Regions from separate parts of the Homo sapiens genome. Here regions 1, 2, 3, 4 and 6 are each reported to be linked to region 5. Evidence: microRNA targets listed by miRTarBase, many of them from high-throughput screens and not tested one by one. Region 5 holds a microRNA gene; each other region holds the end of a gene's coding sequence.
Evidence for each region. Region 5 holds the annotated microRNA hsa-miR-101-3p (UACAGUACUGUGAUAACUGAA, at 2,997-3,017, opposite strand). A microRNA usually pairs through its seed, bases 2 to 8, with sites in the 3' UTR of a target mRNA and lowers its output. Matches are read on the target gene's strand: a 7mer-m8 pairs with bases 2 to 8, a 7mer-A1 pairs with bases 2 to 7 and ends in A, and an 8mer does both.

Region 1: miRTarBase lists DIMT1 as a target of hsa-miR-101-3p. Seed matches in the 3' UTR shown: 7mer-A1 at 3,518-3,524.
Region 2: miRTarBase lists CHAMP1 as a target of hsa-miR-101-3p. Seed matches in the 3' UTR shown: 7mer-A1 at 2,780-2,786.
Region 3: miRTarBase lists BCL9 as a target of hsa-miR-101-3p. Seed matches in the 3' UTR shown: 8mer at 3,386-3,393.
Region 4: miRTarBase lists NKX3-2 as a target of hsa-miR-101-3p. The part of its 3' UTR that is shown has no 7-base or 8-base seed match.
Region 6: the mRNA of CBFA2T2 is a reported target of hsa-miR-101-3p. Seed matches in the 3' UTR shown: 7mer-A1 at 2,552-2,558.

The regions. Positions count from the first base shown.
Region 1 is chr5:62,385,165-62,389,236 of GRCh38, forward strand. It overlaps DIMT1 (DIM1 rRNA methyltransferase and ribosome maturation factor), which reads right to left. Exons shown (of 12, transcript NM_014473.4): 12 at 2,090-3,888. The coding sequence ends at 3,846. KIF2A (kinesin family member 2A) reads left to right here. Exons shown (of 21, transcript NM_001098511.3): 21 at 320-4,072. The coding sequence ends at 405. Among named protein-coding and RNA genes, the nearest start is that of DIMT1, 17 kb to the right of the region's middle.
Region 2 is chr13:114,325,924-114,330,011 of GRCh38, reverse strand. It overlaps CHAMP1 (chromosome alignment maintaining phosphoprotein 1), which reads right to left. Exons shown (of 3, transcript NM_032436.4): 3 at 2,690-4,088. The coding sequence ends at 3,731. LINC01054 (long intergenic non-protein coding RNA 1054) reads left to right here. Exons shown (of 3, transcript NR_126391.1): 3 at 167-255. Among named protein-coding and RNA genes, the nearest start is that of LINC01054, 6.0 kb to the left of the region's middle.
Region 3 is chr1:147,624,673-147,628,760 of GRCh38, reverse strand. It overlaps BCL9 (BCL9 transcription coactivator), which reads right to left. Exons shown (of 10, transcript NM_004326.4): 10 at 2,545-4,088. The coding sequence ends at 3,802. Among named protein-coding and RNA genes, the nearest start is that of ACP6, 44 kb to the left of the region's middle.
Region 4 is chr4:13,538,375-13,542,462 of GRCh38, forward strand. It overlaps NKX3-2 (NK3 homeobox 2), which reads right to left. Exons shown (of 2, transcript NM_001189.4): 2 at 2,456-4,088. The coding sequence ends at 3,619. Among named protein-coding and RNA genes, the nearest start is that of NKX3-2, 4.1 kb to the right of the region's middle. RefSeq lists a silencer at 3,930-4,059.
Region 5 is chr9:4,849,274-4,853,361 of GRCh38, reverse strand. It overlaps MIR101-2 (microRNA 101-2), which reads right to left and starts at 3,065; the gene lies at 2,987-3,065. It overlaps RCL1 (RNA terminal phosphate cyclase like 1), which reads right to left. Exons shown (of 9, transcript NM_005772.5): 8 at 3,812-3,915. It overlaps LOC124902113 (a long non-coding RNA gene), which reads right to left and starts at 2,995. Exons shown (of 2, transcript XR_007061402.1): 1 at 100-2,995.
Region 6 is chr20:33,644,001-33,648,087 of GRCh38, forward strand. CBFA2T2 (CBFA2/RUNX1 partner transcriptional co-repressor 2) reads left to right here. Exons shown (of 11, transcript NM_001032999.3): 11 at 347-4,087. The coding sequence ends at 646. Among named protein-coding and RNA genes, the nearest start is that of C20orf144, 16 kb to the right of the region's middle.

The sequences.
Region 1 (4,072 bases), not on the chromosome of region 5:
TATTTTACAATGTGAAACCTGCCTATACTCTAGGAGGAATTCCAATAAATTAAAACAGAGAACTGTAAATGTGCCAAACAGAACAGAAAGCTATTGAAAGATACAGAAAAACAGGTATTTCTGGAAATCTGTAACAAAAAACTTTCGCAATAGTTGAGCATTCTATTTAGTTCCGAGTTTCTAGACAACAAAGAACAAAAGGAAAAATACTGAGTTACTGTTAGGAAATAACACAGCTGACTTGATTGAACCCATAAAGTTGTAAACTCTTACTGCGTGTAATACAATACTTATTCCCTCTTTCTTTTCTTTTTCCAAGATAAAGTGAAATCTTTCCGTGCAGCTCTACAAGAGGAGGAACAAGCCAGCAAGCAAATCAACCCGAAGAGACCCCGTGCCCTTTAAACCGGCATTTGCTGCTAAAGGATACCCAGAACCCTCACTACTGTAACATACAACGGTTCAGCTGTAAGGGCCATTTGAAAGTTTGGAATTTTAAGTGTCTGTGGAAAATGTTTTGTCCTTCACCTGAATTACATTTCAATTTTGTGAAACACTCTTTTGTCTACAAAATGCTTCTAGTCCAGGAGGCACAACCAAGAACTGGGATTAATGAAGCATTTTGTTTCATTTACACAAATAGTGATTTACTTTTGGAGATCCTTGTCAGTTTTATTTTCTATTTGATGAAGTAAGACTGTGGACTCAATCCAGAGCCAGATAGTAGGGGGAAGCCACAGCATTTCCTTTTAACTCAGTTCAATTTTTGTAGTGAGACTGAGCAGTTTTAAATCCTTTGCGTGCATGCATACCTCATCAGTGATTGTACATACCTTGCCCACTCCTAGAGACAGCTGTGCTCACCTTTTCCTGCTTTGTGCCTTGATTAAGGCTACTGACCCTAAATTTCTGAAGCACAGCCAAGAAAAATTACATTCCTTGTCATTGTAAATTACCTTTGTGTGTACATTTTTACTGTATTTGAGACATTTTTTGTGTGTGACTAGTTAATTTTGCAGGATGTGCCATATCATTGAACGGAACTAAAGTCTGTGACAGTGGATATAGCTGCTGGACCATTCCATCTTATATGTAAAGAAATCTGGAATTATTATTTTAAAACCATATAACATGTGATTATAATTTTTCTTAGCATTTTCTTTGTAAAGAACTACAATATAAACTAGTTGGTGTATAATAAAAAGTAATGAAATTCTGAGAAGAGTTTTATCTTAGGAAAATACATATATATGCAGTGTGTGTGCCAGTGTGGTATTAACAAGACTAATAGTGCAGTTTGATCCTTACCAATATCATTACTTAATTTGAAGTGTTCATTAGCACCCCAAAATATACCTTTTCTATGTACTGTTAAAAGAAATTGGCTTCTGATGCATGAACATTTACATGTACATTGAAAGTAGTCCATAATAGAAGTTAGTTTAAGCCAAGTGTAGACAGTACATTACTCCCTTGAAAAAGAATTAAGTTGAAAGAGTTGACTTTGCCTTAAAAGGCAGATCTAACCCAAGCTCCATCCAGTACCAAATGTGAAACTTCATTGTTGTTTGGTGAGAATCGCCAAATTCTCACTAATACATTGGTATGGTGTAGGGCATGCTACTTTTTAAACAGCAGCACTTATTTTTACAGATTGCTACTCCAAGGAAGAAAACTGGCCACTTTTCATGTAAATATTTTGTTCAAAGATTTGTATATCTCTCTAGGAGTTTTCCCTCAGTTCCCAGGATGGGGTCCAGGAGTAGATTAACAGCTAAAAATCTCCCAAGGATATCTTGTTTTGATTTATTTACTCCAGGGAACTATCAGCTCCTTCACAGGAGCCAAAGGGGAGCTATGAATAGAGGGTCACATGAGCCAGATTCTTTACTGTTCATAAAACCCAGAGAGTAGTTGTGAAAGATCCTAATACAATTGTGAAAAGCTCTGTAAACATGAAATCTAAAACAAATGTAGATTTTCACAATATGCTTATTAATAAATGAAGTCTATGGAATAAGTTTTAGAGATAATTTACTTCAGTCACCTTTGTTTTGGAAAGGACTCAGGTTTTCTTGCAGCTGTAAGATATATTCTATTTGTGTTTATTTCAAAGGGAAGAGGAAGGATGGAGAACTGTTACAATTGACCTTGCAAAGGATATTTAAAAAAAAGGTAGTTTTTGAGATTAACCAACTTTCAAAGGGCAATAAAGACATGTGAATTTGCTCATTTTAAAGCACAACAGATGATTAGCTTCAAATTTATTATTTGCATTGGATGGGTACTGTCTTTGGAAAGTCTCCTTATAGACAAATATGCTGCCTTACACTATGATGGCTTCATTCTGATCAGGTATTTTAAAAATTAGTACCAGAAAAGATACTGGAGGTAATATAATACAGTCCTTCAGCTTTACAGATAGTGAAAACTGAAGGCCAGAAAAGGAACTAAAACTCAGCAGTTCATAGGGGTAGAGGGAAATAACCTGAGAAAGCCGAGTTAAATCTTAAAATTTTTACTATAAGGATAGAGATGATACAAGTGAACTCTGCAAAATAGTTTTGTGAAATTAAACAAAAAAATCTACTCTTAATGTATATTATTTCATATTTGTTTAACAAAAGCAGCTTGATGCCTTTGTTCTGGATTATACATTAAGAACAAGCATTATTTTAATTATGTAGTAACATTTACTATGACTTTGAAGCCAGATTTCAAAATCTGGCTTTGTTAAATTAATTGGAAACACTCTTCTATTAAGTTAGGTATTAAAAAAAGCCAAATATCAATAAAGATATTTTTATTAATTTTTTATAGAAACAAAATAGCTACTATAACTCTATTATAGTATATTAACAGCACTTAGTATTATATTGACTTAAACATAGTAGCTAATAAAACTAGTTTATGACATCTATTGAAATTCTCAGTCTGACAGTTTTAAAATAGCTTAAAACTAAGCACCAGGTATATGAAAAAGGAACTGGAAATTTTAATTGTCCAGAAATCATAGGAATACTGGGAACCTGTAGTTATGGGAAATGGCTGTTTTTCTGAAGTTGAAACCAGTTTCAATTACAAAACCCTCTGAAATTTTGCTAAGCCTATAGTTATCTCCCTAAGAACCATAAAAAAAGATAATTTTATTGTTAATTTCATTCCAGTTTAGCTTCCTCATTTTACATGTTGGGAGTCATGCCCTTTAATATGCCTGGCACTGCACGGTGGCAGTAGCAGACTTGGGCTTACCCAGAACCCTAAGTCTCTGACGCTATAGGATAGCGAAAGAGGTAGGCAATCGTAACAGACACTGTATAGGATAAATAGGGAAGAGAATGAGAGAACCAAAATAAAAATAATTTAAGAAACAATTGTTTTACTGTACATGTGAATAACAAGAAATGGTACGGGGAATGTGAATAACACGAAATGGTATGGGGAATGTGTGACTAGTGAAGCATATTTTAACTTTTTTATTACTGGAGGAACAGAGCTAAAGGCCTAAAGAAGGCCTTACAGTATATAACAGTAAATAGAAGAGTAACATCTTTATACAATAAACTGTTAGAAATGATAAGTGTAAAGTTGTGCGTCTCTGCGGCTCCTGAACTTGAAGATTATTATGAATAGATTGGACCAGCATTATATATTAAAAACTTTGATACTTAGAACTTTCCAACTTTAAAATTCAGAATCATAAATGGTGACAACAGTAGTAGTATTGAACCAAAAATAGTCAAGTAAATAATGTCTCAGTAAAGCAAAAGCATTATCTTCTCAAATACAAAAAATACAAAATTCATTTCTTTTCTTGACCTTGAAAATTTCTGTTTTCCAAATACCTAGGAAAAATGAATACCTTCTGCGTTGAATCCATGTAGCAATCTGAAAAAAGAAATCAAAATGGAATGGTACTGAAAAGCTAATTTGTAGCACATAACGGTATATAGTTCTATACCATTAATACTAAAACATGAATACAGCATGCTTACAGAGCCCACCCACTCCTAATACTAGTTATTAAAGAAACGTTACTGGCTGGGCGCAGTGGCTTATGCCTGTAATCCCA
Region 2 (4,088 bases), not on the chromosome of region 5:
GTTAGGAGTACGCATTCTGGATTGGTAGTTTAATTGCCTGGCCCTGGAAAAGGCAATCTTTTCCCAGTAAACCCCAGATGCTAGAGCATGAAGAAAACAGAAAATAAGAAAGTATAATTAATGCATTCTGTGTGCACTGATGGAGTCTTCCTTTGCTTCCCCAAAGGAAGAGTGCACAGGAGCCTGGCACTCCTGGACCTGAGGAAACCCTGAAACTGTTGGTATTTGCAGATCCTCTCCAAAAAGAGTTCACCGATCTCCTAAGACTGCAAACCTGACCCCAGCATGCTGGGAGCCAAGAGGGTCTGCGGATCTCCCTGCTTAGCAAATTGTGTGTATATATATACACACACACACAATGAAATACTATTCAGCCTGAAAAGAAGAAAATCCTGCCACTTATGGCAACAGGGATGAATTTGAAGGACATTATGTTAAGTAAAATAAACCAGACACAGAAAGACAAATACTGCATAATCTCACTTGTATGTGGAATCTAGAAAAGTCAGACTCATAAAAACAGAGTGTAGAGTGCTGGTTACCATTCTATACCATATATATATCCTATTGGTTCTGACTCTCCGGAGAACCCTAAAACATATGGCAACTTGAAAATATAAACTGATTCACAAATTATTTAAACAAACTAGTGAATGGTATACATTGAATCGGCAGGGGGCTAATAAGGTTAGAATAATAATTACCACCATGGATTGAGTGCCTCCTTTGTGCTCAGTGCTTTTAAATACGTCTCCATCCTCCACTTTGGGAGGCCAAGGTGGGTGGATCACCTGAGGTCAGGAGTTCAAGAACAGCCTGGCCAAAATAGTAAAACCCTGTCTCTACTAAAAATACAAAAATTAGCTGGGTGTGGTGGCAGGCGCCTGTAATCTCAGCTACTTGGGAGGCTGAGACAGGAGAATCGCTTGAACCCGGGAGGCAGAGTTTGTGGTGAGCTGAGATCACGCCACTGCACTCCAGCCTGGGAGACAAGAGCAAAACTCAGTCTCAAAAACAGAAAAAAAGAAAGAGTGGAAGCCAGTAAGGTAAACCAACAACACAGGGGTTTAGCCAAATAAAGTCCTTAAAAGCCAAAACTACACATGCATCACTACCACTTACCCAGGCAATTAACTCTTATCCTATGGCACTATTATAAAAAACCCCAAATCAGATGGCAAGTCATGTGACTTAGTTGGTGCCACCTGGAGCAAAGGTCTAGGATGAACTGCCAGGTTTGCACCAGACAGGGTGAAGTCTTAGAAAAGAATCTGTGTAACAGGGTTGGTCTGAGACTGCAGGAGCCAGGAGAGTTTCTAGGTAATGCAGACCCTTTTTGTTTCTCAAAAACAACTTCAGTCAGTCAGTATCGACAAGAAAAGGACAACTAGTATATCCAAGATATCTTACCTGTCCTATTTGTTGGCATCACTGCCTAGAAGGGAACTCCTGATCTGGAAGCTCGTTCTCAAGGTGCCACGTAAATTGATAGCAGCAGCTACTCAGTGCTGTGTTCACCGAAGTTAACAGATCTGAGGCTTCTAAGACCTTACTTGGTATTATCTAAATGTATTACTCTGTTCTTACACTGCTGCAAAGACCTGAGACCGGGTAATTCATAAACAAAAGAGGTTTAATTAGCTAATGGTTCCACACGCTGCAGAGGAAACACAGCTGGGGCAGGAGGCAGGGCGGCTCTGGAAACTTACAATCACGGCAGAAGGTGAAGGGGAAGCTGGCATATCCAACATGGCTGGAGCAGGAGGAACAGAGCGAAGGGGAGGGGCTAAACACTTTTAAATAACTCACACACTATCACGAGAACAGCAAGGGGAAGTCCACCCCCATGATCCAATCACTTCTCACCAGGCTGGCCCCTCCTCCAACACTGGGGATTACAATTCAATATGACATTTGGGTGGGGGTCAGGTGTGGTGGCCCACAGCTGTAATCCCAGCACTCCCTCAAGTGAGGCAGGTGGATCACTTGAGCCCAAGAGTTCGAGACCAGCCTGGCCAACATGGCAAAACCCCATCTCTATTAAACTACAAAAATTAGCTAGATGTGGTGGCACACACATGTAGTCCCAGCTACTCAGGAGGCTGAGGCACGAGACTCCCTTGAATCTGAAAGGCAGAGACTGCAGTGAGCCAAGATCACACCACGGCACAGCAACCTGGGTGACACAGCAAGGATCGGTCTCAAAATAAAAAACAAAAATAAAAAGAGAGAGATTTGAGTGTGGACACAGAGCCAAACCATATTACTAAATATTGTTAAGCTATCCCAACGGGCATATTAATAGGGAAGCCAGCGGGTGGGGAACTAGGACAAAACTGTTCCTTGTTAAAAAAATGTCTGGGAATAGCTAAAATAAACCCAGTACAGCATCTCAATCCTGGCTACACATCAGAATGCTTTGAGATTAAATGCCTCACACTGTTTAGAGGCAGGCAGGATAGGCAACCACTGGAATTAAAAAACCTTTCATATGAAAGGATGAGGTTTTTGACACAGAGTCCTCCCTATACACGCATTCCCCTAACTTACTTGACCACAGAACTTGGAGAAAACACAGCTAAGAAAATGCTGCTCCAGATAAGAAAACTATGTTGAAAACATGGAAATAATGGATCTGTATATCATACAATGAAAACTACACAAAAGAAAACACACATGAAGATGTTGCTGACATGAAAACCTTTCTTTTTAATTTGGTTGATACACATTTGACAAAATATTTTAGAATAAAATAATCCATGAACAGGTACAAGGTATTTACAGTAACATAATTGAAAAACATAAAATCGATATATTTCTTTAACAGAAATGTCTATAAAATTTTCTACTGTGAATCTGGAAGACTTTCAGTTCCTACTTATCAACCTGGTCTTAAGCCCCAACAGGCGACATGTAAGGCCCAGGAGTAGGATATACAAACTCTAACACATTTGGCAATTAAGAATCATCTATTAGTGTGAGCTGGCAGGCGGTGGGTGGGGGGTGGGGATGGGGAGGGAAGAACCAGATCTTAGGGTAAGATACAGAATGGAAGACTCCACTGAAAACAACTATGGACAAGAAAGATCTAAAATCACACTTATCTTTCACTTGTCTCCTGTGGGAGAAGGCTGCAAACTATTTTAAAGACTTAGTCAATTTTTCCCATTAGCAGAAAATCAGCAACCCTGAGACTCCAACATTTCATGACATAAAAGCTAATAAACATCTAGAAGCTGATTAAGATTTATAAACTAATTTTACATCAGATAGAAAATAACTCTTATGATTTAAAAATACATGTAAGGAAACAAAATTTCTCAAATTTATTTTTCATGCCTAATTCTTAAACATTTCAACTAATATTTTCTATTGTCTGAAATTAGTTCCACACACAGATACACTTTAACTGAATGCTTTGAGTACAACTTGCTCTTGATTATTAAATGGAATGCCTACTTCCTTGTATTATTATTCATACATATTTAAAAGAAATGAGAAGTTTAATCCATCTGGACTATACAGAAATTTATTGACTTACAAGATAGTCACATAGACAGAGACCAGAAAAAAATGATCAAATGCTCATTCTTAGTAACACAACTGAGACAGTGAAACACGGTACACCATACATGTCATCTACTGATCCAACTATGCTATCTGATAAGCTATACTTACAAAGAATGGTTCCAACAAACACCTTTGTAGAACAAATATTCACACTGTGTTATCAAATTTGCTGCTCCTCCAGTGGCGGTTCAAGAGCTTCCATTAGCTTTTTATTTGCCTCTTCATTATGCCGGCTTTGACAATGAGTTAAATGTTTCTTAAAACCTCTTGGGAAATTTGATTCAAAATTACAACGTGGACATTTAAGTAAACTTTGCCCATGGGCTGCTACATGATTTTTAAGGAGAGATTCCAAAAGAAAAGCCTTTCCACAGATTGTGCATTTGTAAGGGCTATGAACATTATGCTTATTAACCAAATGATGCAAAACAGCACCTTTTTTCATAGCACGACAGCAACAAATTTTGCAATAATACTTTCCTTTTCCACGCTTCATGTATTTTGCAATCTCCTCTTCA
Region 3 (4,088 bases), not on the chromosome of region 5:
ACATCCCAGCCTTTGCACAGTTCTTGATACACAGTAGGTGCTCTATAAATATTTGCTAAATAATGAGTCCTCGGGTTAAAATGCAACTTCCCTCTCCTTTCAGCACCCTGAAATTACTCAGAAAAGGAAAAGGAAATGACTGAAGTGTAGACAGTTTAAGCGGAACACAGCAAGTACCCTGCCTGAGGTGCTCCTGGCCACTAGTTAAGGAGAAAGAATAAATATGGAGACTGAGGTCCCAGCACCTCTGTGGAGCTGTTGTGATTTCTGTTTACAACAGCCTGGCTAAGCAATCTGTGGGACCCAGGGCGAAATGGAAATGTGGAGCCCCTATTCAATAATTAAGAACTCCAAACAGTGACAGCGGAGCATTAAACCAAGCCGGAGTCCTGTCCAACTGCACAGGTGGCACAGATGACCACAGTTGCGTTGTGATGATAATATCAAGAAGTATAGAGCGCAGGGAGGCTGGGAGAAATGTTGGATCCATTTTTTAAGGAGTAGCTTTAAATATGTAAAATTGTTTTCAATTTATTTTCTCATGCCGCCTCCTTCATAAGACCCCTATAATTATGTCTGTTTTCATGTATAAGTGCAGAATCGTTTCTAAAGTAAATTATTTTATTTTACATTGTTTCAGGGAAAATGCTACATACTTCTAGTTAGTCCTTAACAAATGCTATGAGCCACACACACTCCACCACTTTCCCCTGAAGTGAACAAGTCACTACTGCATTTTCTCCATTCAGTCCCAAACTTCAGGAGAGGAAAGAGAGAAGATTGGCTGGGCTTTCACAGGAATATGTTAATATGAAACATCTTTCATCACTCTTCCACTGATTTTTAAAAAATCTTGCATCAGTTCTCCATGCACTAGCATCCAGTCTCTCTAAAGGTAATTTTATTTTATAACAATCTTAGTAAATGATAAATTGTTGTATTTAGACCCTAAATTTGGCTTGTCAGACATTATCGTGATGAAATGGCATGTGCTGATAAAGTGAATGAAGTTGTATGATGGGGTATTTTAAAAACTCAGGTGGGGAAGTTGATCTGCACTGCCCCAAGTTCTCCAGCAGGGGGCTGCGAGAGGAGTGCCACACATCCAGCTGCCCACAGCAGCCAGACCCACCGGTCTCTTGCTAGCCCTCTAAGTGAGTACCTGCTCTCCTATGTGGGTACCTTTTATGCCTTGACTCCCTGCCTGTGAGAGTAACAACAGGACCACACACCATTAGTGACTGCAACACTGTTGGGTACAGCAAGGAGGGGAGCAACCCAAGAAGCCAGACCAGTAGACAAATGCCAGGTGGGACCCTTCCTTCAGGTTCTCATCTTGTGCTGCCCATGCTTGGCTGTTAGTCTGTTCTCATCTATATACTTTAAAGCCAGAGAACCCAGAAACATGGCTAAGTTCGTGAAACAAAATCTTCATTTTACTATCCTAATTTCTCTACAACATGAAAGTTTCACTACCCAGCACCAACAGAATACATCAGATTGAATCAGAATTCTTAAACTTGTGAGCTCAAGTTTTCTCATCTGCAAATGAGATCATTACCACTCACTTCACAGGGCCCCTTAAAAATCAGCAAGATAAAGTGCAGGGAGGCGACTGGTAGAGTAGGTACTCAAATGTTCATCTCCACATTTTTTGTTGTCTGGGGCACTTGTGTTACTGAGAAGACAGGGCTGCTGAAAAGGAAGAGAAAATGGCTCTCCAAAACAATTGTCGGAGAGAAAAGCTCAGACTGTGAAACACCAGCAGAGCCCAATTTGTACAAGTTTGTTTGCAGATGACTCTGCACCTGCCGCTCCTCGCTTAGATTCTCTCACCTAAGAACAAACACGCACACAGACGCCCACTCACTGAGCTAAAAACACCTACAACTCAAAGAAATACACACACCAGAACAGAATTAACTGCACAGAAGCACAACAGCAAGTCCATTAGCACATACCTTGCAGGATACACACTGATCTGCTGAAGATGTGTGTGGTGAGAAGTGAACTGTGCACAAAGACTGAGCAGCGTTAGCAGAGGTGATGGGGTAAGGGGGAGGTGGGGAGCCAGAAAGGACCACAGAAACCCACGGACTGTGGAAACCCATAATTTGCAGGTATAGTAATAATATTCTACCTTAACAAGACCAAGGGACATCTCATAGCTTATTCAAATAACTAAACATACAACCTTTGGCCTTCTTAATTACTTCATACCACTAAACTGGCTCTCACAAACATTCCTAATAAAGACCATTAATTGCCCTAAAGGTAAAGTTCAGCAATGGGACCAGGGTTGCTCTTCTGCTTATAACTAGGATTTCATGACTGAGATAGGAACAGTACAGAATAAACCTACATGAGTAGTTATTCCTTAACAGCATGGAATATGCTTTGAGAAGGTACTTTTATGTGGTTTCCCTAACCATCACCTTACTGATCAACTCCAATACAAAGAGTCTACGCTTCTGGGTCACATGGCAACCGGTATGCCCAATACTAAACAATCAGGAATCCAAATGAACAAAAAAGGCAGTTCAATTTTGTAAGAAACAATATATTTTATTTTTCTGACACCACAGCTCTGGCGAGTGGTTTTGTACCAAATTTAATGGAGGTTACACAGAACGTCTTACGCATGGGAGGGGGAGGAAAGGGAAGGAACCACAAAATTTAAAACAAACAGAAACAAAATCCTGGATAGCTTTTAGCATCTGTTCCACTCCCACATTAATAAAATTCACTTGGGAATTCCTAATAAAAGGAGAACAGAAAACAAGGTGGGCAGGGAAGGGTATGATGGGAAAGAGAAAGACTTAGGGGGAAAAAAGACCAGAGAGCATCCCAAGGACAGACCTTTCCCTCTCAGAGCCAAGAGGACGCTCGGCATGGAAGGCGAGGCTTTGCTAGATTTATTTCCCCAAAATAACACTGTGTATTGCAGCTGCCAAAGGGAAAGAGAGAGGGAAGCAGAGGGTCACCAGCGGGGGGCACAAAGGAAGGAAACACTTAACTGAGGAGACAGAGCAAAATCGGAGAGAGAAAACAAGAGAAAAATGTGCCAGTGGGTTGGTATATTGGGAGACAAGACAGTGCTGAAGAGCACTTGAACTGAAAAACAAATGTCCTAAGAGTCATTATTTTTCAAAAGAAAAATCTCCCCCCTCCCCCCACCCCTCGCTGAACTTAGTTCCTTTTTTTGTGCTTTTCATTAATACTCTGCTCTGAGGTCGTAGTTTGGTTTTTCTATACACTGCAGTTGAAAGAAAATAGTCCAAAGGTCTGAAGATGGATTCTCCACCTAAAGTAAACAGCCCAGCATTCCTGTTCTCCTCTTGCCCCAAAGACTAAAGTCTCTGCTAAAATCCCTTTTACAATATAGTACAGTACACAGAAAAAAATAAAGCCCAAATCAAAAAAACAAAAACAGAAAAGAATCCTGGGAGAAGCCAGTCCAAAGGACGTAAACATACAGAGAACGGTGCAACACATGACCGATGGCAATTCTCAAAGCACAGCTACAGATTCCCAAAAGTAGGTGCCATCATTGATACCCAAGTCCACAAAAATAATTTTTAAAAAATAAATCTTAAAAAAAACACACCTGTTGATTAAATGAATAATTTGTTTTCAGGTAAATCCATACATTCTCGAGTTCCCCCCTCCCCCAAAGCAGCCCTCGGGTCTCTGTTCTCCTATTGCATGACCAATAGTAAGTACTCCTGGAACTCCCTCAAAGCAGCTCTCAGGACCTGGAATCTCATCTTGACAAGGATCGGCACATCCCATCTTAGCAGCTTAAAACATCATGTTTCCTGGGTTGCCAGGTCCTTGGCTAAATCCACCCATGCCCACGTCAGCAGCCATGCCCCGGGGCCTCATCTGTGGGGGGATCATGATGTTCTGTTGGGGTCCCATCATGCCCTGCATGGACATCATCATGCCTGGAGAGCCCACAGGCCCAGGGTGGGTGTAGAGCCCGGCAGGCCCCCGATCCTTGCCAGGAATCATGCCCACGGCAGCAGCTGGATTGCTCATCAGGGTGGGCTGGCCGGGCATTGTAGATTGTGCTGGTGACATCATCC
Region 4 (4,088 bases), not on the chromosome of region 5:
TCTTTCTTTCTTTCTTTCTTTCTTTCTTTCTTTCTTTCTTTCTTTCTTTCTTTCTTTTTCTTTCTTTCTCTTTCTCTCTTTCTCTCTCACACACACGCATGCGCACACACATACACACACGCAGACCCACCAGCTACATTTGGCAGCTGGTTGATCCCAAATTTGCTGCTAGGAGTAAGATTTGTGGGCTCGGCCTGAATCCTTGGGACCAATTTCAGTGCAAGTGACATGATGTTCCGCCCCCTTTACCAGCCATTCCCCTCGCCTTGGTTTACCCATCTGTAGAGTGGGTGGATCTAATTCGAAAATCCCCAAGGCCAAGTTCTAAGATTCGCTAAGCGCCAAAGGGACTGAGAACGATGAAGAGGCCCAAGGTTCATTGGGCCCAGGCGGCAGTTGCTACTGCTCCGGGGACCAAGCCCAGAGAAGGCCGAGAGGGCTCAGCGCAGCACAGGGATGCAGGCAGTGGGTGAACAGAGATACCCTCGAGTAGGGAGCAGGACTGTTCTTCATCTTTCCAAAAAAAAGAAAAAAGAAAGAAAAAAGAGAGAAAGGCGGAGAGAAGATAGAGGAGAAAGTAAAGAAAAGGAAGAAAGTAATACTGCAAATTTTCAACGGGAGCCGCGTCTGCGGCAGAAGACCCAGGTAAAGACATTGGTCTGGGTCGCAAAATACGGCGAGAACTCCTTGGAGGACAGGCTGGACCCAGAGGTCGCCTCCAGCTCCCAGAATCAGACCTCAGGGCATTCTCGCCAAGGCAAACCGCGGGACAGCTTGGAGGGAAACAGCCATAATCTGGATCAAACTGAATTCATTTGAGTCATTTTCCCCGGGCAGCCGGAGCCAGTCCGCGGAGCTGGCCCAGGCAGGGGGCCCGAGAGTGGGAGAGAAAGGGAAGGGGCGCCCGGGTCCGCAGGGTAGGTGGAGTCTGCGGTGGAAGATGGAGCCGCCAGGGGTGCGACCGGGACCTCTGTGGCTTTTCCTACTCTAAAGAAACTCCCGGATTCTTTCACCGCCCAATCGGCAAAGATGGAGAACAAACTACCCTCTTAAGACGCAGCAACAAGCAACTGCCTTTTCAGAAAGGGAGAAAATCCCTCCTCCTAAAAAACCCCTCAGTAAGTAGTGATCCCTGGGGAGAAGAAGGGAGGAGATTCTAGTATTATCGGAAATGTTCCAACTCTCTACAAGAAAAACACAGTCATGATTAATTGTATAATTTAAATAGAACTGTAAAGCATTTTATAAAGAAACGAGATGATTGCATTTATAAAGAAACGAGATGATTGCAAGAACCATATGGAAGGTAGTTGGACTCCAGTGGGGGACCGGGTGGGAGTGTGCATATCCCGAGGGCCTTTGCTTCTCCCTTTACATTTTGCTGTTTCTGGAAGCGGGGATAATTTTGTAAAACGCTGGTCACCACGCTCCGCCCGGGCCAGATCCGAGGGCTTGAGGGACCCCAGGCCAAGGCCTTTAGGGTACCAAAGCTTGGAGGCCCGGGGGCTGGGAAAAGTCGCGGTTGCCTTGGAGAGCTAATCGACCTTTCGGCCCCAGGTGAAATTGAAAGAAGCCTTGGCCAGGGTTTTGGTGTTTCCCGACTCGGGTCCAGCGGACTGGAGGCCTCAACGCCCGCAATGTGGCATTAACTCTTCCTTGCTCGCCGGGAACTCGGCTTGAGCTGCCAGTGAAAGTGAGCATTTAGCTCCAGTGAATCCGTAGCATTCTGGGGAGTCTGGGAGCGCCAGCTGCGTATGATCATCTGTAAAATGGGGTAATAAATAACGGTGCCCTGCCCATTCTCTGCTCCCCGGGTGGGCTTCGGTGTGTACCAAATGACGCCCTTTCATTGAGTGCGGGGAAGCGCTTTGAAACCTTGTAGAGCCCCAATTGCACCCGTCCGAGGAAAACGCTCGGGTGACCCTTCTCCGAGAGACAGGTTATTCACGCCTGGTTTGCAACTAATCGCTTCAGAATTTTAGCGGGAGTTTTCACTAAACCACTCTCAAAACTAAACACTAGATAAGGTAGAGAAACGCTCCTAAAATCGAAAGCAGAGAACAGGGTGGGGTGGGGTGAGGGGAGATGAAAGGGTCGGTACATTGGGATGGGGGATGGACATTGGCTGGGGGTTCAACCATGGACTCTTACTAGGCTCTGAAACCAATGCTCACAGGGAGGATGGGGAGAAATCCTAGGAATTTGTTCCCGGTTTCAGTGGGATTCATCCATTACTCCTGCAAAGCCCCCGAAGTCATGATTTTTCTGAGCTGCCCAGGTTTATAACCTGCCTGAGGAGTGGGCGGGCAGCAGGGCTGCTCCCAGGAGAGACTAAGCATCCTTGGTCCGAGACTAAAAGGAGGTTGGAAAAAGCCCCAGCTATTTCCAGCTCGCCTTACTGGTTCCCCAAAAGTCGGGAAAAGACAGTTTCAGAGAAAACGCGGCGTCCAGGAGGGCATGTTAAACTAAAAGTTTATAAATTAAAGAAAAAATACAGCGAATAGAGCTTCCAAACTTCACAAATCTTTTTACAGTTAATACTCTAGTTGAGTGCACAGTGCCATTAAGGAGGCGAAAAGCGGCGAGGTTGACAAGACAGGTGGGATCACCTGTTTAAGGGTAAGTGAGGGGCGGATAGGGGAGTCCCGGGCCAGAGCACTGGAGTCGCAGAGGGCAGAAGGTAGACACTGAGGGCCAGGCAGCGGCACTGCGGTGGGCGCCGTGGAAAGGCTGGCCAGGGATATTCACATTGAGTAGAAAAATAATCGTCATTTGAATACAAACAACTGAAAAGTGCGACACGTCTTAACCTCCTTTACACAAATAAAAAGAAACCAAGGAAAGTTTCCGCAGAGGGCTGCCTGGGTGTGCGCTCTCCTCCTTCCGGGACTCCCAGGCGCTTCCTGCTTGTGCAGGTACCTGGACTTCAGAGAAGGAAGATGTGGAGACCCCCGGCTTGCACCACACTTGGAGGCTCCCCTCCTTACATTCAGCACCCGAATCGGGCACCCCCACCCTAGCTCTGACACACAGGAGGGGTGGAGCAGAGGGCCTGAAAACCCAATCCTTCACGTTTCAAATCAACCCCTGGCCTGGTGCTGCCTGGGACTGCCAGGGTTTCGCACCCCTTGGTTACAAATGCAATTTCCAAAAATAAAAGATATGTAGATACACATAGATTGGTAGCATGGATACCATGAACTAGTGTGGCCTAGTGCAGAAAGCTCCCAGCAGGCCTGAAATTCTGAGGATTCAGGCTATGTGGTCTCCAGGAGTTGCCGCTCAGGGAAAACCCCACCCCCAGGCAGACATATTCGAATCAAAATTTAATTCCAACATTGTCATGATAATAAATAGAGCCCAGGGGCTTCCAGGCAGGTGGGCGATCAGGGCCCCTAGGCCATAGGGTGCCTCTGTTCAAATTAGAAAAAGGCGCCCCCTCAGGGCAGACTCAGCCCAGCTGCCAGGGGACAAGTCCTGGCTAACGGGAGCTGGAGCTGGGTTTCACCTCCAGGTGCCTCCTTGGCGGGGCGCCCCGTGCAGGCTACAGCCTACAGCTGTCAGCGCCGGTCCGGAGCCGGAGCGCGGGAATCACTCGCTGCCTCAGCCCAAGCGGGTTCACTGGGTGCCTGCGGCAGCTGCGCAGGTGGAGAGCGCCCAGCCTGGGAGGCAGTAGTACGGGTAATAGTAGGAGGGCTGCAGTGGCAGAAGCGAGGGTGGCCGCAGCACTTCGCCGGGCAGGTATTGTCTCTGGTCGTCGCGCACCAGCACCTTTACGGCCACCTTCTTGGCGGCGGGCGCCGAGGCCAGCAGGTCGGCTGCCATCTGCCGGCGCTTTGTCTTGTAGCGACGGTTCTGGAACCAGATTTTCACCTGCGTCTCGGTGAGCTTCAGCGACGCGGCCAGGTCTGCGCGCTCGGGCCCGGACAGGTAGCGCTGGTGGTTAAAGCGGCGCTCCAGCTCGAAGACCTGCGCGTGGGAGAAAGCGGCCCGCGAGCGCTTCTTGCGTGGCTTGGGCGCCGCCGGCTCCTCCTCCTCCTCCGCGACGCCTGCCGGCCCGCTGCCGCCCCCGCCGCCGGCCCCGCTGC
Region 5 (4,088 bases):
GACAGAGGAGACTCCGTCTCAAAAAAAAAAAAAAAAAGAGCACAGTGGGTAAGGGAAGCAGTGACTGGAGGAGACTGTCCAGGTCTGAACCCCACTTACTGTCTGTGTGACCCTGGGCACGTAACTTGACCTCGCTGTGCCTCAATCCCATCACCTGTAAGACGGTGCACATGATAGTACTTGCCTTTTTTGCCCTTATGAAGTTATGATGAAAACCAGATAAGTTATTATGTCTGAGTGCTTAAAACAACATCTTGCACACAGTAAACACGGTGTTGTTTAAATAAACATCTACCTTACAGAATTCTTAGGATCAATAAGATGTGTGTAGTTTGCTCAGTAATGTGACTAGGGGAAGTCAGTCATAAAAATAATAACTAGAAATTAAAATTTTTTAATCCATAATTTAAAATTAATGGATATAGATTTATAGGTAGCTGGGCAGACCACTTACAGATGACTTAAACCCTAAAATCACCCAAAGCAAGTTTACTAGGCCTCCTGGGGTTCAAAGTGACCTGACCGGGCTACTCTAGCCACACTGCCTCTGGGGTAGTCCTGCTCCTCAAGGAGCAGTTAAAAAAAAAAAAAAGTGACCTGACCAAGGGACTGGACTGCAGCAGGGTGAAGGGGTGTCCAGGCAGGAACCACAGCACCCAGCACTGACAGCTCCTCAGGCACGTTGCCAGGAGCACTAAGCATCTGACTTAATCTAAGCTTCGTTCCATCTCCACAAGTCCAGGACTTCAGGACCACGCACCTTATCTACAAATGACACCAAGGCTCCAAGATGCTAAATACCATTTCCACGGTCTCCTGGTAGCGCGTGGTAGAGCCTTAAGTCCAGATAGGCTGGACTCCAAGACTTGTGCACTGGCAGAATGCAGAGAGCTCTGGTAACTGCAGTCTCATTCCACAAATAATTTCTGAAAGTGCTAATTAAGATGCATCTTAATTTTTGCTATTTTTCTTGCTGTTAATCCAAAAGTATAAATCCTCCCTCCCTAAACTGTAAAATTAAGCTTGTTGAATGGAGGGTGCAACTACTGTCACTAACTGTAAGCCACCTAAAACTCAACAAATTTAACAGAAATAGAATCTTCATATACCAGTGATTATCCAACAGTATTTTATTCTACTGAAAAAAAATCTCTTGGGCCTTTCTAAAAGAGTTTCACATTGGCCGGACTTGGTGGCTCAGGCCTGCAATCCCAGCACTTTGGGAGGCCAAGGCGGGTGGACCACGAGGTCAGGAGATCGAGACCATCCTGGCTAACATGGTGAAACCCCGTCTCTACTAAAAATACAAAAAATTAGCCAGGCACGGTGGCGGGTGCCTGTAGTCCCAGCTACTCGGGAGGCTGAGGTAGGAGAATGGCGTTGAACCCGGGAGGCGGAGCTTGCAGTGGGCGGAGATTGCGCCTCTGCCCTCTAGCCTGGGCGACAGAGCGAAACTCTGTCTCAAAAAAAAAAAAAGAGTTTCACACATACAGACTTACTTTCTCAAGTAGCACAGAAAACCACCAACAGCAATCCCAATGCTCTTTACATAGACATTTAAAAAGCTGTTTTATACACACGAAAAACAGGTCCAAACTGCTTGAAGAAATGCTTTTTTTTTTTTAAACCAAGGAAGGTCTTGCTTCTGGTTTTCTTTAGAAATCTGAGGTTTCACAAAACAGGTTTCTATGACTTTAACTACACATAAAAATAAATGTGTTAGTTTGGTCTCCAAAGCTCTTGAATCCATTAGAATAAACTATTCCCCCACCATGATGGTCCTCACCGTGGATTTCATCCCTTTTTTATCCTCAACTGTACTCACAAATACAATGTTAACTTTGCCTGCTGCATCCTGCCTTTGCCCTTCATCTCTTTGTGCTGCTGGAGCTGTCCATAGTGATTAGGGGCAGAAAGAGTATGAAACAGATCCAGCTTTCTTGAAAATAGACTCCCTTACCTGTCTTTATGCTAGCTTACCAAAAAGAACGGAGGCTTCCCTTTCCCACCCTGGCAGACCCGTCTGCACAAAGCTCTGGGAGGCAGCAGAATATCTCTAAGCCCCAGCCTCAAGATACATCATCTTACAATTTGTGCTACTCCTTTAAAGCTCCATTCAGAGCAGGACACTGTTTTCACAGGAGAGGAAGTCATTTTATGCAAGTTTTCTGGAAGAAAAGACACTACAATTAATGTTTGGTGAGAAGATGTGTTGAAGAGGACACAGGAACTTTCAAAAATGTCCAGTCATATCTTGAGCATCTCTGCAAAGCTTGAAAACATCATACAGGTCCTGGAGCCAAATTGAAAAATCTCCAAAAGCAAAAGAAAAAAAGTGTCACGAAAAAAAACATATATGTATTCCATTTTCACAGAATGTTCTGCCAAACCCCATGCCCCAGGACCACACACATTCAAGACAACACCCCATACCTCATACCGTGTGTGCAAGCAGGACTTCCCCAGGCCTGAAGCAAGGGCTGGGAAACGGCAGCTACGAGCCCAGCTACAAAGCCGGTGGGGCCACAGTGGCCACACAGCTGGCAGCCGCCTCCAGTGAGCTCTCTACAGGAAGCGAGTCTCTGTACCTAGGGTGCCATTCTTCCAGCCCTCATCTCCTCTCCAAGTACTTAACTACCAAGTCTATTTTAGCATTGTTTACTACTGATGTTACCACGCCATTTAGGATTACTCAATTTTAGGTATCCTGTCCTACGAAATACTTTTACACAAGCTATCAGGAGATAATGTGGTCCTTACCAGTTTCCTGCTTATCAGTCTTCCCTCTCTGCTAACAGAATGTATTCTCTTCCATTTTCCTGTTCTAAAAAAACCTCCCACCACGAATTCCAAAAAAAAAAAAAAAAAGAAAAAAAAAAGCCTCCATAAGAATTTATTTCAAGCTCCTGGTTTTCATGCCCCCAACGCCATGGCCCAAGGGTGCATAGCCCCACCGCAGTCCTCAACCCTTTCTCAATGTGATGGCACCACCATTCTTCAGTTATCACAGTACTGTACCTTTCAGATATACAGCATCGGTACCATGATAACCGAAAAAGGACAGTTCAGTCTCATATCTACCTGAATATTCCCTGCCACCCAGCTCACCAACCTCAGATGGGCCATATGATGATCTCCAAGTATGCAAGCACGTGAAAACACACACACACAATGTCAGTACTCAAATAGGCTGTTTTCCGCAACCTCATTTACTATCAATAGGAAATGCTTCTTTCACAGTGTCATTTATAATTCAAGTCTTCTGACACTGTTCTTTTTGAAGAGTGCTTGCTTTTACACCACAGCAGTCAACTTCTGCTAACATTCAACAATCCAAACTCACTTCTACAATTCCCTACTAGTCCAGTAGCATTAATACAAACTCTGTCTTTTGTCATCTTTCCCAGTGAGCTCATATCCTATCATCTTAGACAAAAAGCCTGTTTTCCCACAGCAAGTTAGACAGCTAAGGAAAAGAATGATTAAAAAAAAACTAGTAATAAAATCCAAGCTACACCAAACCAGGAGTTTACCTCTAACCTGGAAACAAAATCTAAAGCACGAACAAAATAACTGCCCAATAGAGATCATGCAATTTCAGTTACCTGGGATTAAGGAAGGAAAGAAATGCAAAAATCCTTGTATGTAAAAATAAACACCAGGTTAAGAGTGACAACTGCTGGCTGATTTGAGGATAAACACAAGCAGGTGTTCATAGTGCAGGCTCTGTGCAGCACAACACCCTTTGTCATTTTGGGCAATGAGAAAATTACACTGGACAGAATAACGAGGTTGAAAAAGAATAACTTACGTGTAGGGAGAGAGAGGGCCTAGCAGGACTTTGGAAACATCCTGCTGTCCAAGGGTCATGAGTAGTAGCGCCAGGCTTTGGTTGGTCGAGTCTACGCATCCACCCTGTAAACACAAATTAATAATTGTACAAACCAGAAAATGGAAAGCCAACAAAAGAGAGGAGGAAAAAAAAAACCAGAAACATACACTCATAATATCAAAATCCAAAGTTCAAGCAACAATAAAACAGAATACAGGTCTTATAAGAGTAATCATTGTATCAACTAACTGTAGAG
Region 6 (4,087 bases), not on the chromosome of region 5:
TGACTATTAAAATGAGCCAAAAGATGAGTCCATGCCTTAGGCAGGAGAGATGGCCACCTGCCCTAGGCTGGTGCTGTGTAAGGTATTTTCACACACACATCTCATTTCACTGTTCCTGTCATCTTGCAGGGAAGTAGTTTTCTTGTTTTACAGATGAAGGAAACTCAGAAAGGCAGTGTGTATTTCTCATAGTTAAACAGCAGTAGAGGGCGGAGTTGACCACAGGTGTATGTAGTTCCAAAGCTGGGGTTCTCTACATACAGCCCCTTGCTTTACTGTGCAGGGAATGAATGGCAAGCCTGCCCCTCAATCCCAGCAACCACTAACTGATGCCTGTGTCTTGCAGAACTGCTGGAACTGTGGCCGCAAAGCCAGCGAGACATGCAGTGGCTGCAATATCGCGCGATACTGTGGCTCTTTCTGCCAGCACAAGGACTGGGAGCGGCACCACCGCCTCTGTGGTCAGAACCTGCATGGCCAGAGCCCCCACGGCCAGGGCCGGCCGCTGCTTCCTGTAGGCAGGGGCTCCTCTGCCAGGTCCGCCGACTGCAGCGTGCCCAGCCCAGCCCTCGACAAGACCTCGGCAACCACATCGCGTTCCTCAACACCTGCTTCTGTGACAGCTATCGACACCAACGGACTCTGAGCCCCGGACTCTGCTTACCCTGATGGCTGCTCAGCACCACAGAGTGCTTGGGCTGAGGGACTGACTGTTGGAACCCGTGCATGTAGCTGCCGGGTCATCAGCAAGAAATGAATTGGAGGCAGGAAGAGTCCAAGCCTGAATAATAACACCCCACAGCCTCTCTGTGCACTTGCTGTCTGCGGAGCCAGTGTGCCATTCTCTGCACATGGGCAGCCAGCCTGAGCTGCCTCCTCCATGGCTTTCCTGGTTTGTTCCTCTCTCCACTGAAGCTGACTTAGCCGGCCCCTTTTCAGTGTAGACCACCAGCTCCCCTCCCCATCTCCTTGAGTCAGCAGACTGTCCAATGTGCTCAGCCAGGCTGGAGGCGGCAGGCGGCAGGCAGCAGGCTGTGGAGGAGGCCCCTCGGTCAGGGAGCGGCCTGCCTCACCCCTGAATAGCTCCTTCGGCCCCATCTCCATCCTCAGCAGATGACACTGATTGGCCTCACGGGGACTTGGGTAAGCAACAGGCGGCATTCAGGACTCTTCTCAACCCTGCTGTTCAGACTTGATAAGATCTCAGAGTCCACAGGAAAGAAGTCACTGTTGCAATAAAAGCACCCGTAGTAGCAAAAACATAAAACAAATAAAACTTCCCCCACATCACAGATGATTTTGGACAAGATTTTCCAACCTTGCTGGCTACTTTAGTTTGGGACCTGTTTTTTTTCTCATTTGATTTTGCTTGTGCAGAAAATAGTTTCCAGCACATGGATTGATCTGAGAGAGAATGAGGCTCAGTTGTGGATAGTCTGTTTTCTCTGAGCATGTTGGCCAACTAGTATCGTCAAATTATTGAGTGGATCATCTCTTGGAAATGCAGAACTTCTGCCACCACTTGGCTATTTGCACAGTCATCTTGTTCTGTGTCCTTTTATCTCTCAGACCACACACATCTGGAACGCTGTGGGCATCTTCTGCCCATGGGCTCCATTTGGCACCTGCTGAGCCACAGTTGTCCTGCTGGATGTGCTGTGCAGGTTGGTAGGACTTGCCCCCACTGTCAAGGCCTGGTCTCATCTGAAAAGCCCTCCTGGACCTCAAAGAATTCTTCAGACCTCATAGTTACAGGTCATTATATCTACTATGTTGATTTATCATCAGGCACACAACTTCTGTTTCCTTCTCTTGTGTTATCTGATAGCGTCCCTCCTTGAGCTCATCAGAAAGGTTTTATGAAATGTGAACCATTTTGGGAAAAGCTGATCAATTTTTCTTCCTAGCTTCCCATTTTCAAATGGGACATCACTCATATCCCTTTCAGAATGTTAGGAACTGCCTCCCACATTCTTCCCTGTCTTTTTGGGTTTTGTTTTTTGTTGTTGTGGTGGTTTTTTAACACAAAGTCTCACTCTGTTGCCCAGGCTGGAGTGCAGTGGCATGATCTTGGCTCACTGCAACCTCTGCCTTCCAGGTTCAAGCAATTCTCCTGCCTCAGCCTCCCGAGTAGCTGAGATTACAGGCGCCCACCACCACGCCCAGCTAATTTTTGTATTTTTAGTAGAGACAGGGTTTCACCATGTTGGCCAGGCTGATCTCGAACTCCTGACCTCAGGTGACCTGCCTTGGCCTCCCAAAGTGCAGGGATTACAAGCGTGAGCCACCATGCCCGGCCTGTCTTTTTGGTTTTGATGGGAGTCTGAGGACCCCGACCCCTCCTGCTCTCCATCTTTGAGCCTCTGGCATCCTCTCACACCCAGAAATCAGTTGGAGTAAGTTTAATTGGCCCTGCTCCAGCTGGCCTTTGAAGCACAAGTTTAAATCTCCACCTTCTGTGCACTGACCAGAGTCTAAAATAAAAGTTGTCAGTACCATAAAGGAAAAGGGATCCACACAGGTAGCCTTCTCCTTGGATACAGGTACATCTTACTGTAAGAATTTCAAGTCCTGGCTGGGCGCAGTGGCTCACTCCTGTAATCCCAGCACTTTGAGAGACCGAGGCAGGCAGATCACTTGAGGTCAGGAATTCAAGACCAACCTGGCCAACATGGTGAAACCCTGTCTCTAATAAAAAAAAAATAGAAAAATCAGCCGGGTGTGGTGGCACACACCTGTAATCCTAGCTACTCAGGAGGCTGAGGCAAGAGAATCTCTTGAACCTGTGAGCCAGAGGTTGCAGTGAGCCGAGATTCCACCACTGCACTCCAGCCTGGGCAACAGAGCAAAACTCTGTCTCAAAAAAAAAAAAAAAAAGGCAAAATTAAAGAATTTCAAGTCCCTAATTTACTCTAACCAAGCATTTTCAGTCTTACAAAGAAATCTAGTGCACGACACCTTTAAAATGCCTAGATTTCCATTGCCTAAAGTAAGGTGTGACCAGTGAAACAACAGCAGAGAATCATGTTCCTTTGCTGTGGAACACATAAGCCCCACAGTTTTCCAGTCAGCCTAATACATGGGTATCCCCCGACCCCATCTGCCTCCTTAAGCCACAGTCCTTGGTGGGGAACTCTAAGGGGGACGGAGTCAGTACCCCGGACAGGGCCACATTTGCATGAGACATGGCTGTCTCACAGGTCACAGAGCCATTACAACAGCTTACTAGTTTTTCATGGATTTGTTGGATTAACACCTTAAGCAGGTTTTTTATTGTTATTTTGTTTGTTTGTTTGTTTTGAGACGGGAGTTTCTCTCTTGTCTCCCAGGCTGGAGTGCAATCGCGCAATCTCGGCTCACGGTAACCTCTGCCTCCCAGGTTCAAGCGAGTCTCCTGCCTCAGCCTTCTGAGTAGCTGGGATTACAGGCATGCGCCACCACGCCCAACTAATTTTGTATTTTTAGTAGAGACGGGGTTTCTCCTTGTTGGTCAGGCTGGTCTCAAACCCCGGACCTCAGGTGATCCCCCCACCTTGGCCTCCCAAAGTGCCAGGATTACAGGCATGAGCCACTGTGTCCGGTCTTGAGCAGGTTTTTAAAATCTCCAGTGGCCATAAAACTAGCCAGGGTAGCTCATGCTTTTACTGGTTGGAATAAGGAGCCAAAACCAACAAAATAATATTTATTAGGGCTCGATGCCCATTTCTGTGGCTAAGGCTTAGGTTTGGTGTGCAGAGCCTGGCCTGCTCTTGTGGGCTGTGGTTGCTGTGACAGTTTCGTTTTCTGAATCTTTGTAATGCTCTTCCACCCTGCTCGTGCTGCCCAGAGGCTGATCTGCAAACCTGGGCAGTATTCCACACTGAAGCTCAGTTTGCAAACCTTCTGCTGTGTTAATTCTGGTCAGTTTCACACAGAAGTCACGAGGGCCTCTGCCCAGGACCTTCTATTCACATTTCAAGAATCCCTTTCTGAAATTCTCCAACTCTCTGGTCAGGAGGAGGAGCACCATTGGGGCGGGGTAGGCAGCTAGAGGCGCAGGAGCGAATCCAGGTTCCTTGCGTGGTTCCCAGCCTCTGCTGACAGCACC